Linked DNA regions of Homo sapiens: regions 1 and 3 are each linked to region 2. The links come from fine-mapping of genetic effects on gene expression. A gene starts in region 2. Each other region holds a variant in brackets. All regions are shown on one strand. Distances are between the middles of the regions.

Region 1 (4,246 bases), 36 kb before region 2:
TTTAAGAATTTTTTATCTGTATTCAGGAAGGATATTGATTTAGAATTTTCTTTATGTAATATCTTCATTTCATTTTGGTATAAGGTTAATATTGGCTTTACAGAATGAATTGGGAATGGTTTTTTTTTTCTCTTATTTTCCGGAAAAGATTGTGTACAATTGATGTCGATTCCTTATTAACTATTTGGTTGAATTCTTCAGTGAAACCATTAGTTCTGGAGATTACCTTTCTTAAAGTTCTTTAAAATTACAAATTCAGTTTCCTTAATAACTATGCAACTACTTAAATTATTTCATTTTGGGTTAACGGTGGCTGTTTATGTTTTTTGAGGAATTAGTCCATTTTCGTCTTAATTGTTAAATTTATATGTGCAGAGTTGTTTGTTTTTATTCCCTTATTTTGCTTTTTAAATCTGCAGGGTCTATACTGATATCCCTGTTTCATTCCTGACATTGGTAACTTATTACTTCTGTTTTTCCTTTGTTCATCTTGCAAGAAGTTTTGCAAATTGTGTCCATTTTATTGACATTTTCAAATAATGAGTCTTTGTTTTATTGATTTTCTATATAGGTATGCCTTTTCAATTTCATTGATTTCTGCTCCTCTTTTTATTACTTCTTTCCTTCTGCTTGCTTTGACTTTATTTTTCTCTTCTAGCTGTAGGTTCTTGAAGTAAGAGCTTACATTTTTTATTTGAGACTTTTTCTCTCTTCTAATATATGCATTTAGAGCTACAGATTTCCCTCTTATCACTGCTTTAGTTGTGTCCTATGAGTTATAAGTTGTATTCTCATTTTCATTCAGTCTAATGTATTTTTAAAATTTCTTTGAAATTTTTTCTTTGACCCACTGGTTACTTAGGAGTATGTTGTTTACTTTCAAAGTGTTTGGATATTTTTTTCTAACTTTTTATTATTGATTTCTAGTTTAACTTCATTTTAGTCAGAGAACGCACTTGATATGCTTTGATTCTTTGAAATTTGTCGAGTTTCTTTATGGTTTTTCTTGATATATTTTCCTTAGGGCCTTCAAAAGAATGTGTATTCTGCTGTTGTTGGATGGAGTGCTCTGTAAATGTTGTTTAGCTCTTACTTGTTGATGGTGTTGTTGAGTTCTTATATCCTTGCCAATTTTCTGTCTAGGTATTACATCAACTTCTCAGAGAAGGGTGTTAAAGTCTTCAACCATAACTGTGGATTTGTCTATTTCTCCTTTCAGTTTTTTCAGTTTTTGTTTCACTTATTTTTCAACACATTGTTTGATGCATACACATTTGTTTGGTGCATACACATTTAGAATTGTTGCATCATCTTGATAGATTAAGGGTTTTTTTTTGCATTATATAAGCTCCCTCTTTGTGTTTGGTAATTTTCTTTACTTTGCATCTATTTTATCTGCTATTAATATAGCTACTTACTCTTGCTTTCTTTTGGTTAATGTTTACATGAAAAATTTCCCATTATTTTACTTTCAACCTGTCCTTATTATTATATTTGAAATGGGTTTCATATGGACAACATATAGTTGAATGTTTTTTAATCCACTTTGTCAATCTCTGTCTTGTAATTGGTATATTAAGGCCATTTTCTTAATGTAATTATTGGTATGTTATGGCTTAAGTCTGCTATTTTATTAGTTGTTTTATCTCTGTGTTTCATTTCTCTGTTTTCTTTTTTCTGTGAATTGCTTAAACATTCGTTAGAATTCCATTTTGATGTTTTATATAGTGGTATGTCTTTTTGTATAGATTTTTAACGTTTTTGCTCTAGGCATTACATTATATATATGTATATATATGATTTATATAAACAGTCTATACAGTCTACTGGTATCATTTTACTAATTTGAG[C/T]GTAATGTAGAAAACGTAACTCCTTTACATTTCACCATCAAACATAATTTTGGTGATGCTTTCGCCATCAAACATAATTTAGAAAACGCAAGAGGAGAAGGGAAGTCTATTGTATTTACTGATATTTTAGTTACCATGTGTTTTTTTCTGATGGTACAAGATACTTTGCCATTTCCTTTCTGTTTAAAGAACTTCCTGTGGCCATTCAATAACCTTTTTTCTTATCAAATGACGTGAGCTAGAAACTTTCAAAATATTTTATACTTTATTGCAATGCAAATGGAAGTCTTCCTTCTTCCTTCTGACTTTAATGGAATGCTTCTAATTTTTTTTTCCATTTAGCATGATGTTGCGTTTTAGATTAAGGAATGCTGATATATTTTTATCCACAAAATACCTTTTCATTTCTTAATTCTCCATTTATCTCTCAGGAAAGTAATGTGATTTCTAGGGCAGTTATATATATTTCTTTTTAAGATTATTTCTAGATATTTCATGTTTTTATTGCATTTATTACTGAGATATACTCCCCAAATATATCTCCTTTTGAATTTTCTTTCAATATATTATTTTGAATAGAAAATCACTAGAAATATTGGAAAAAAAGAAAGATATGGAGAAAAAACTGAAAGTTATTTTTAATATTCTAAACTAGAGATACTATGTGTTAATATTTTATGTGTTAATATTTTATCTCTGTCATTCCAGTCTGTCTGGAATATTTTTATGTGTTTTGTGGGAAGTATTATATGTGTTAATTTTATGTTGATCATTTTTAAATATCTATATTTATATTTTACAAAAATGGTACCACATTAGTATATGATATACTCTTTCCATCTAGCAATATATTATGAACACTTTTCTATTTCATTCAATAGCATAATTTTAATAACTTCATCTATGACAGTGCTTTCCAGAAATTTGTCTCTAGTACAGAAATCCACCTTATCTGTGGTTTTGCTTTCTGTGGTTTCAGTTATCCATGATTAACCGTGGCCCAAAAATATTAAATAGAAAATTCCAGAAATAAACAATTTATAAATTTTAAATTGCACACTGTTCTGAGAAGTGTGATGAAATCTTACCTGGTCCCTTTGCTCAGCTTATTTGCTGCTGTATATGCTGCCTGCCCTTCAGTCACTTAGCCAGCCACCTGTGTTATGAGTTTAAAAGATCTCAAGAAGAAAAGTAGGTACAGTACAATAAGATATTTTGAGAGAGAGAGAGAGAGACAGACAGCACATTTACATTAACTTTTATTACAGTACATTGTTATAGTTCTATTTTATTATTAGTTTATTGTTAATATCTTACTATGCCTAATGTATAAACTTTATCATAGGTATAAATGTATAGGGTAAAACTGCTGTATATATTCTGTTGCATATGCAAGAAGCTATTATAGTTGCAGAACAGTTTTCTGGGAGGTTGGACCAGCCCAATTGTTCCCTTTTTTTCACGTGTAGTTCTCAAGAGTAGCTGCAGAATGTGCTAGGAATGCAACATCCTGAGATAAGAGGGAACTAGCCACAACAACCTCGGTTCTGTTCTGGTTCCCCATAGAAACAGGATGTCCTTCAACACGTAGGCCCAGCATGTGATGTGACCCCATGGTATAAAACCCGAGGAGGGGGTGCTACTTTCTGGGGTCCCTCAGCTGCTGTGCTAGTTGAGTACTCGTAAATAAGATTCCATTTGCCCTGGGCAACTTTCCTGAGCCTTGCGAGATCAGCTTACAATGAATCCTCAGCTTATATTGCCCTTGTTGCCCATCTGTAAGTAATAAACCCAATTCATGTAACGGGTGTGTGCCTGTGTTCTGTCGAATTGAACTGAGGCATATTGGTAAGCAGTGCACAGTGCACCTACTTAACATTCAGGGGCATTAATTTTATATGCCCTTTACTAAACTTTTGTGAACTCAAAGACTTTTCAGTTTATTCATAAAATGTCTAAATAGGCAACCAAATGGAAGAAGAATAATGATAATTTTGTCTCTTCCTTTTCATGGATTATTTTTTAGTTCTGTTTCATGTCATGATCTCAGCTAAAATGTTTAGACAATGTTGAATAATGGTGAAAGTGTTTTGTTTCCCTTATCTCCCTCTGTTTTTTAAATGGGGATGCCTCTATTCTTTCCTTGTTAAGTAGTATTCTGGCTGATGTTTGATTTGCGATAGTAATCATTATTATTGATATTGAGATAAGCATCCTTCACTTTTGATTAAGGTGATCGTATGTATGATATTAATTATATTTAATTATTTATTAGTTACTAACAGATGTCCTAATATCCATCCAAGCATCCAGATAAAATTTCCACTTTTTAAAGTAATATTACTTTTTTCAGGTTTTGGTAAAGGCTTACACTTGATTCCTGAAGGTATTTTTAG
Region 2 (4,246 bases):
AGCTCTGTCTTTGCTATTTCATGATGCAAGTTAAGGTTTGCTTGTCATGTGGAAAAGATTTGAAATAAAGACAGTGGATAAAATGTTAGTGTCCAGAGGGACAATGGGCCATTATTTAACTTGTTTTTTCCAGGTGATCCAAGGGAGGTCTTACTTCTCAATAGGAGACAAGTGACTTGATTTCAACACGGATGGGAGAAATTGGGAGGTGAAATTGGGAGAAACATGGAAATACTGGTGATGTATACAAATCCAGACTTTTATCAAACAGAGCAATTAGAAAACTGTATCTTCATAGGCACCCAATATTTTGTTATGTCTCATTTAAAATTCATTAAGTACTTTATTTGTAAATATTGTGATTTTTCCTAATTATAAAAGTATACATGACTGATGAAAAATTGAGCAATACAGAAATCTATGTTAAATATGATTTGAAGAGAGAGAGAGAGAGAGAGAAAGCTCCTCCCTTATCTGGTCTGAACCTCACACCTTCACCATTCTTTGATGAGTCCATTTGACCAGCTTACTTTTCCAAGAAAAATTGAAAAGGATTCCATTTATAAATTATTGACCTCAGAGAAATTTTCTAACTCTGCTTTGGAGGTTATGGGCAACCAACCAACTCTGTTCACCGTAGACTCTCGGTGCTAAACCAAGGAAAGTCCAAAACAAACCAGTGCATTTTGTCACTTTAGTTTTACATAACTTCCAAGTGAACCTACAGAACTGAAGCCTGATCCTTGAACTTGCTGCTTTGTTCTAATACTGTGGGATATTATTATTTTGCTCTTTCCTTCAAGGGGAAGCATGAACATCTGGCCTTTTCTTTTTCTTCCTGTAAGTCCATTGGAGATGCAAGATTTTAAGGAGCAGGAGGATGGGGGGGGAAGGACACCCTCTTGCATGTAAGTCATGTTATGACTCCTCTCTACTTGACCTCATTGTGTAAGGAGGGCTCAGGGCCACCTGTTGAACATGAACACTGTCTTCAGGAAATTCTTAGCTCTCACCTGCCTTTCTCGCCATGTTGCCTCAAATATGACCCTCAGGTAAAGGCTGCATCTCCTTGGGGAAAAACACACTGAAGCTCCTAGAAGCCACAGACCAGTTTCTCCTCTCTCCCAGTGTTACTGCAGTGGCTTCTGCCTTGTCTTTAGTGAGCAGCTGTGGCCCCAGGGCTGTTGTGTGGTTAAGTAGGTCCAAATGCGAAAGAGTGGGAGATGTAAGAGGAGCGTCGAATGAGGGCAGCACAGAACAGTGAAATCCTTGCACCTGCCTCCTTGACAGTTTTTGCTGAGAATCAGACAAGCAAGGAATCTCTCACTTATTAGCTGAACACAGAAAGACTTTGGGGATAAAGCTGGTCTGAGAATTATAAAGGGGTTTTGAAACAGAGACAGAGGTGTGTATACACCTATTCATTCTTGAATTATCCTTAGACTATTACTACAAAGTGGCTTTCATTATTCTCCTTTCATGGTATAATGGAGTGATTAGGAACATGAGCTTTGGAATTCCACCCCACCTTCACTAAGTAGTGGCTGTGTGACCATGGGCAAGTCACTCCATTGCTCTGAACTTCTGTTGCTTCTTTTTAGACATAATATTATCAAATGCGTATGACTGTTGTGAAAATTAAATGACACATAAAACACTTACAAGCCTAGCCCATTGCTCTCAATAATGGGGACTAATATTATTAATCTTAGGTTGCAGGTGATGAGATTGAAGTTCCTAAAGTTTAAGTAATGAATCAAAGGCCTGAGTCAAGATTTAAATCCAGGTCTGTTGATGTCCATACTCGAGTAATGTTTAAACTTACAGTAGTTACAAGGAGCATCAACCTTCCTCAGCAAGATTTGACCAGGTTGAAAGGTTCTGAGATTGTTTGGATAACATTTCAAGATAATAATAAAAAAATTCCATAGTGTTGTTAATATCTGATGAACATCTACAAAGAGGCAGACATCGTTTCAAGTATTTTCCTATAATAACTGTCATTGTATAACATTATTGACTCTTTGAGGTATATACTACTAGCCTTTCCTTTTTACAGATGTGGAACTGAGGCACAGAGATATAGAACCCTGGCAAAAGCTGGGGCTTATACTGACTGACAAGACCATTTCCAACCCAAACATTCTCAGGGAGGGAACTGGCAGCCAGTGCCCCAGCAAACTCTCGCACATGGTTCTACACTCAGGCCCCCCTGAGCTAAGCTTCCTAAAGAGCCAGGTGGCAGCTGGAGCTGGGGTCTCCTGGCCCATGATTGGCTGCCATCATTTGTGGTTAGCCCTCCATGGTGGGGGAGGCTGGGAAGGACAGTGGAAGCTGATAAACAGCTCAGCAGCATGTTCTGAGAAACAAGAGGGCAAGGAGAGAGCAGAGAACACACTTTGCCTTCTCTTTGGTATTGAGTAATATCAACCAAATTGCAGACATCTCAACACTTTGGCCAGGCAGCCTGCTGAGCAAGGTAACACTCATACTTTTCATGCCTTGAGCCAAAATATTTATTACATTTTTATGTTTCTAACTAGAAGTGCTTGAGCTTTTTTTCCTTCCAGGTGATGAGGGGATGGAATGAGCAAAGCTACATCAATTTTTTTTTAATGTATGAAAATAAAAAAGGTACAAGAGGCCAAGTTTAGGGCCACTGAAGGTTCATAGAAAGATGCAAAATATCTGAATTACTATAAATGAATGCTATTGTCAGAGGAAAGGTTTAAGGAGTGCTTCTTGAATGAATGTGTACAAATCAGCAGAAGGTAAGGTGTGAGACTCTTGGAAATGAATACTGGTAGTTCAGGTGAGAAAAATAATCAGGAACATAATAGGGTGGGAGGAAATGTATGGTTTCCCAGGTATTAACAAGTATTGCCAGGCATTTCCTGAACTAGATTGGCCTAAGTAGGAGACCAATGTTTCTCAAAATATTCACTCATTTTAGAATCACTGAATGTTTAAAAATGCAATTTCTGGATTCCTTCCCAAACAGCCAGACTCTTTGGGACCTGATGATCTGCATTTCTTTTTAAAAACAAACTCGCTCATGATTCTGATTTGTATTAATTTTGAGAATTGCCATGGTAGAGACCCTGCTTTGAGGTTATGTTCTTGAGTCAGGATTCCTGGCCAGGGATTGTGATGATATATTTCTCTTTCTGAAGTGGTTCATGCAAGAGGTTGTCTGAAGGAAGAGCAAGAATTGTAGTGTTATTTTGTGGATACTTGAGACTTATAAAAAGGCTTTTTATTTTGTCACATTTTTGATACATGATGTTTGGCAAAAAACAGACGATAGTATTTGCAGAGTGAATGAATAAGTGGAACAGGTGTGATAATGAGAGGTCACACTTGAGCACACAGTTATTACTTGGAAATTGTGTACAGACTAAGTTGAAGATGTTAGGAGGGAAGATTGTGGGCCAAGTAACGGGGTGTATGTGTGTGGGTATAGGGTGGGCAGCTGGGATGGAAATGGGGGGCTGCTGCTGCTGCTGCACCCTGGCCTCCTGAACTAATGATATCACTCACCAGAAACTACTGTTCCTGCACTGTCCAAGCCACCCCAAACTAGTTTGTCAAAATGAATCTGTGCTGTGTGGAGGGAGGCACGCCTGTAGCTCTGATGTCAGATGGCAATGTCGAGATGGCAGTGGCCGGTGGGGACAGGGCTGAGCCAGCACCAACCACTCAGCCTTTGAGATCCCGAGGCTGGTCTACTGCTGAGACCTTTTGTTAGAAGAGAGGAGATCAAGCATTTGCAAGGTTTCTGAGTGTCAAAATATGAATCCAAGATAACTCTTTCACAATCCTAACTTCATGCTGTCTACAGGTCCATATTTTAGCCTGCTTTCTCCATGTTCATCCGAAAAGAAAGAAAAGCTAAGGGTGGTGGTCATATTTGAAATTAGCCAGATCTTAAGTTTTTCTGGGGGAAATTTAGAAGAAAATATGGAAAAGTGACTATGAGCACATATACAGCTAGTCTTTAAAACAGTTTTATCCAAAATAAATGTATCACAAAATTAATAAAAATAGTTACTTGCTTGTTTTGAATAATTCAAATGATACAAAAATTAATAAAATAAAAAGTGCAAAAGGCCCTCTTATCAATGCCAATTCTATTTTTTTCAGAAATTAAACACTGTTAAGATTTTAGTGTGTATCCTTTCAGAATTCCTGTGATTTCATATATGTACAAATACAAACGTATCTACATAAAGGGAATCCTACTATA
Region 3 (4,246 bases), 140 kb after region 2:
AAAAATACCCAAATAACAATAAATTACATAGTTCTAAGCATTTTACGTATATTATCTCATTTAATCATTTTAGCCACTCTGAGAAAACTGAAGAAGCACAGAGAGGTTAATCACATGCTGAAGGTAGAGCTAGAAAGTGACAGAGCTGGACTTTCAGCCTAGGTAGCCTCGCTCCTGGATCCATGTGCTTAATCACTGAGCTGTCTCCCAAACTCTTTTGTCAAGGGAAGACATGAGCCCATAAGTCCCTGGATGATGTCTGTTTCTTTATCTTAGCCATTCTAAAGTAAGTCACTCCAATGCTATGTTTGGTTTAAAATAGGGGATGAGAGGAAAGGATATTTTCCTTGTGTCTGTGAATTCCAGGTGACAGTGAATAGACAAGGAGGAAATCAACAGGAACTGAAGGATTCCAGGATGCCTATGATGCTGGCTGGACCTTTGAGGATGAGCTAACTGCATTTGAGGGAATACTGTCTTATTAGATCTAAAGGTGATGTTACTGACCTGTGTCTTTCCTCATTAGCCTGTCCCTGGAAATGCTGGACAGCTGAAGCCACGATGACAAAGGAGAAGATTAGAGGCAACTGAGACCTAACCAAGTCACGGACCTGGAAGATGAAAAGGTGAGTCTTGTTTGAAATTGCACCTCCTGGGCCCACTTCAATGCCCGAGCTTTCAGGCAGAATTGTGGTGCACACACTTTTCTTTATTTTTAAAGGTAAAACATTGATTGTTCTGGAGACAAGAAACTCACCTTAGCTGTGAACTAATGCCTCAGTCGAATGTAGGGTTCAGTGTCTCCATGGCTTTCTAACCCCTGGGCAATGTTTTATAGCAATTACCTGTACAACCAGTTGCTATAGTTACCTATTGTCTATGCTTCAAGAAGAGAAATATCTAGCTAAGCTAGTTAGCAGAAGAAATAGGTGCTGAAGTCTAACAAGAAAGAATGGGACATGCAGAAAAAAAATATTTTTACCCACATAGTGACAAGTTTAGAGCATCTAGCCTACTTACAGGCCAGTGATCATAGATCTGTATCTCCTTTTCCAAGTGAATCATCCCAATTCACAAAGATGAGCCCAAAGCAGCCATGTTTAAAATAGGTGGCCACAGTGCCACCTAGTTGTAACTGATTGGATCAGGGTGAACACCTAACCCAGGCTGGGGCAATCCGATTCTGTTGCCTGGAAATCAGGACTGAAGTCTTTCCAGTCTGTCTGGATAAATGGCAGGGCCTGTTCTATGCAAGCTCGAAAGAGTGGGGACCATTTTCTATCTTATGGAATGAGGAAAAAAAGAAAGCATACCTGTGGAGGGAGAATAAGCCTATTTGCAGAGGAAGCAGTGAGAGGAAATGTAGCTTAGGAGTTTTTTTTAGTTCCTGTCCCTTTCTGAAGCAGGGTTGCATTTCTGCCTTAGAGCATTTTCTTTCTTTCTTGTATTCATTATTATTATTACTCATTTTTCGTTCTTACTGGCATGAATTAGTTTCCATCACTTCTCACTAAAACTTACATGGTGCTCCAGTGTAAGTTATGCTCAAGGCACCTGTGATGGGTTGAATTGTGTCCTCTTATAATTATATGTTGAAGTCCTAACTCCTAGTGCCCCAGAATGTTACTGTATCTAAGGCCAGGGTCTTTAAAGGGGTAACTAAAGTGAGGTTATTAGGGTGGGCCTTAATCTACAATGACTGTTGAATTTATAAGAAGAGATTAGGACACAGGCATGCATGGAGGAAGACCTTGTGAACATACTCATCTACAAGCCAAGGACAGAGGCCTCGGAAGAAATCAACCCAGCCCACACCTTAATCTCAGACTTCTAGCCTCCAGCATTGTGAGAAAATAAGCTTCTGTTATTCAAGCTATCCAGTCTGTGGGACTTTGTTAGGTCAGCCCAAGCAAACGAATGCAACTGCTATGTACGACATGAGACTATAATTCCTCCTCCCTCTGCCCGCACCAAAGGAAACTTGATAATCAACTAACTGCTATTCTTTTCTTAATAGTGATCCATAAAAACAATAGCAGAAAGATTTTTTACTTTGGCTAAAAAGCCAATAACTGGCATTCAAGGCCCCTGATGGAGTATAGCTCTAAAGGAATACATCTTCTTAATGCTCTTGTTTGGCTTAAATTAAAAGTGTTCAGCTTCATGCCTTCGCAAGGAAAGGTGCCTGCTAAAGCTTTAATTTTACATGGGAAAATGATTGCTTTTTCACTAATTGGAATGAATGGGAACCCTTTCTTCAATTCATTTAAACTCAGGTGAAAACAAAGTGAGTCACTTTGCAGAAAGAAGTACAGGAACTTGCAGATTCCTCCCTACCACCCTTGAGTTCTGAGATCAGTGTACAAAAAGTCACTTCCATCAGTTATCCTCACATTAGAGAATTAGGCAGAGAAAAGCATCCAGGTTTCTCTCACTTTTAATCAGGACAAGGTATAGGAAAATGCTGTTGACATTTCAAAAAAAGTTGAGAGAAGTGAAGGTCAAGAGTGAATAGAAAAAGATGTTGATTTAACTGAACTACG[G/A]TGGCACTTAAGAGGTCGCTGAGCAGAGACAAGGTGCAAAGGAAATAGGAATAGCTTATAGACTGGTAACACAATATGTGCCAATAGAAGCAGCCACCGAAAGGATTCTGTCATTTGTGTGTGTGCCCCAAGGCAGTTTTGGTTTTTTTGAAAGGAGGAAAGGAGGATTTTATTTGGAACATGTGGTGTTCACATGTTCCTGCAAAGGAGAATAGACATGGCAAATAAGTTTCAACTCATGTGCAGCTCTGAATATGTGGATTATTATCTCCCTGGAGAATTGTGTTGGGATGCATTCTGAGGAAGGAGCATCAGTTAAGGAGAATTAATGAATTAATATGAATGTGAATGTTGTGCACGTGCATTGGTGGGACCAAAAGTCAATCACTGATGGCCCTGGGTCCAAGCGGGCTCTGTGAGAGGTTTTTAAAAATTTTTGGCCGGGCGCGGTGGCTCACGCCTGTAATCCCCAGTGCTTTGGGAGGCTGAGGCAGGCGGATCACAAGGTCAGGAGATTGAGACCATCCTGACTAACATGGTGAAACCCTGTCTCTACTAAAAATACAAAAAATTAGCTGGGCATGGTGGCGGGCACCTGTAGTCCCAGCTACTTGGGAGGCTGAGGCAGGAGAATGGCGTGAACCTGGGAGGTGGAGCTTGCAGTGAGCCGAGATCATGCCACTGCATTTCAGCCTGGGAGACAGCGAGACTCCGTCTAAAAAAAAAAAAAATTATTTCAATAGTTTTTGGGGAACAGGCGGTTTTTGGTTACATGGATCAGTTATTTAGTGATGATTTGAAATTTTGGTGCATCTGTCACCTGAGCAGTGTACATTGTACCCAATATATAGTTTTGTTTGGCCCAGCTGGTCTTTTAAAAAGATTTGAACTAAACATTTAAGAGTAGAGATATTTCATTTTTTTTTTTTTTGCCCCCTACCCCTACCCTTCCACATTTTCAGTTTCTTTTATAAACTCCAGCAATACTGGGTATTTCTGCATGACAATGGCAGGATGGAGCTAGGTAGTAGCTCAGTTTAAGCATGGCCCCTGTGGACACTGGGCTGTGTGATCCCAGGCCCTAGGCTAATTATACCTTCTGGGCTCAGGGTTCATGTGGCTGTGGATTGAGGATGTGGCTAGCAGATGGCCTCAAAAGTCAGGAAGTGCTGAAATTTTAAGACTATTCCGGCCTAAAAAGCAGAATAAAGGGTTGGCAAGTATGGCCAAAGCAGATGTCTTTTAGTAGTGTGAACAAGACCAAGACCACAGACCGTAGTGTTCCCAAAATACATGCTGACTGCAGTCTTTTCTGGAGGGGATGGGCAGTCCAAAGTTCTGTGAGGAGAAAGCTGTGACCTATACAGTCTAGATTCTGGAGAAGTCCTCTTTGCTCTATTTATGTTACTTCTGGGCATCATCTTTAATGGGTGCAAAAGTGACACATCCCATCAATCTACCATTTTTATTCTTCGATAAAAAAATGGAATTAGTAGTATAGATTAAGCCACTTCTTCGAACTCTAGATCCACATGTCCAACTGTCTATTTCCTATCCTTGCTGTTTTTGTCATATAATTCAAGCATTAAGTGTCCAAAATGAAACTCATTCTTCCCTTCCTTCCCCACGAGATCTGGTTCTTTCTGGTGTTTTTATCTCAAGGAATAGGACTTCCTCCATTCAGCTATAAAAACCAGGAAGCT

Which allele goes with the higher level. Alleles are on the strand shown, and positions count from the first base shown. SD is a standard deviation of normalised expression in the study named. Not every link is listed here.
As copies of C replace T in region 1, the expression in ileum of the gene that starts at base 2,364 in region 2 goes up (small effect, 0.34 SD a copy in GTEx).

Evidence for each region. PIP is the estimated chance that this variant, and not a neighbour inherited with it, causes the effect.
Region 1: its variant is the best candidate, but not a certain one, in a credible set for the expression of RAG1 in ileum (GTEx, PIP 0.83).
Region 3: its variant is the best candidate, but not a certain one, in a credible set for the expression of RAG1 in thyroid (GTEx, PIP 0.83).

The regions. Positions count from the first base shown.
Region 1 is chr11:36,529,734-36,533,979 of GRCh38, forward strand. It overlaps a transcript of RAG1 not described here. Among named protein-coding and RNA genes, the nearest start is that of TRAF6, 22 kb to the left of the region's middle. The variant C/T (reference allele first, on the strand shown) is at 1,851.
Region 2 is chr11:36,565,644-36,569,889 of GRCh38, forward strand. RAG1 (recombination activating 1) reads left to right here and starts at 2,364. Exons shown (of 2, transcript NM_000448.3): 1 at 2,364-2,479.
Region 3 is chr11:36,710,182-36,714,427 of GRCh38, forward strand. It overlaps LOC107984326 (a long non-coding RNA gene), which reads left to right. Exons shown (of 4, transcript XR_001748187.1): 3 at 527-626. LOC105376631 (a long non-coding RNA gene) reads right to left here and starts at 809. Exons shown (of 3, transcript XR_931199.3): 1 at 758-809; 2 at 508-611. The variant G/A (reference allele first, on the strand shown) is at 2,544.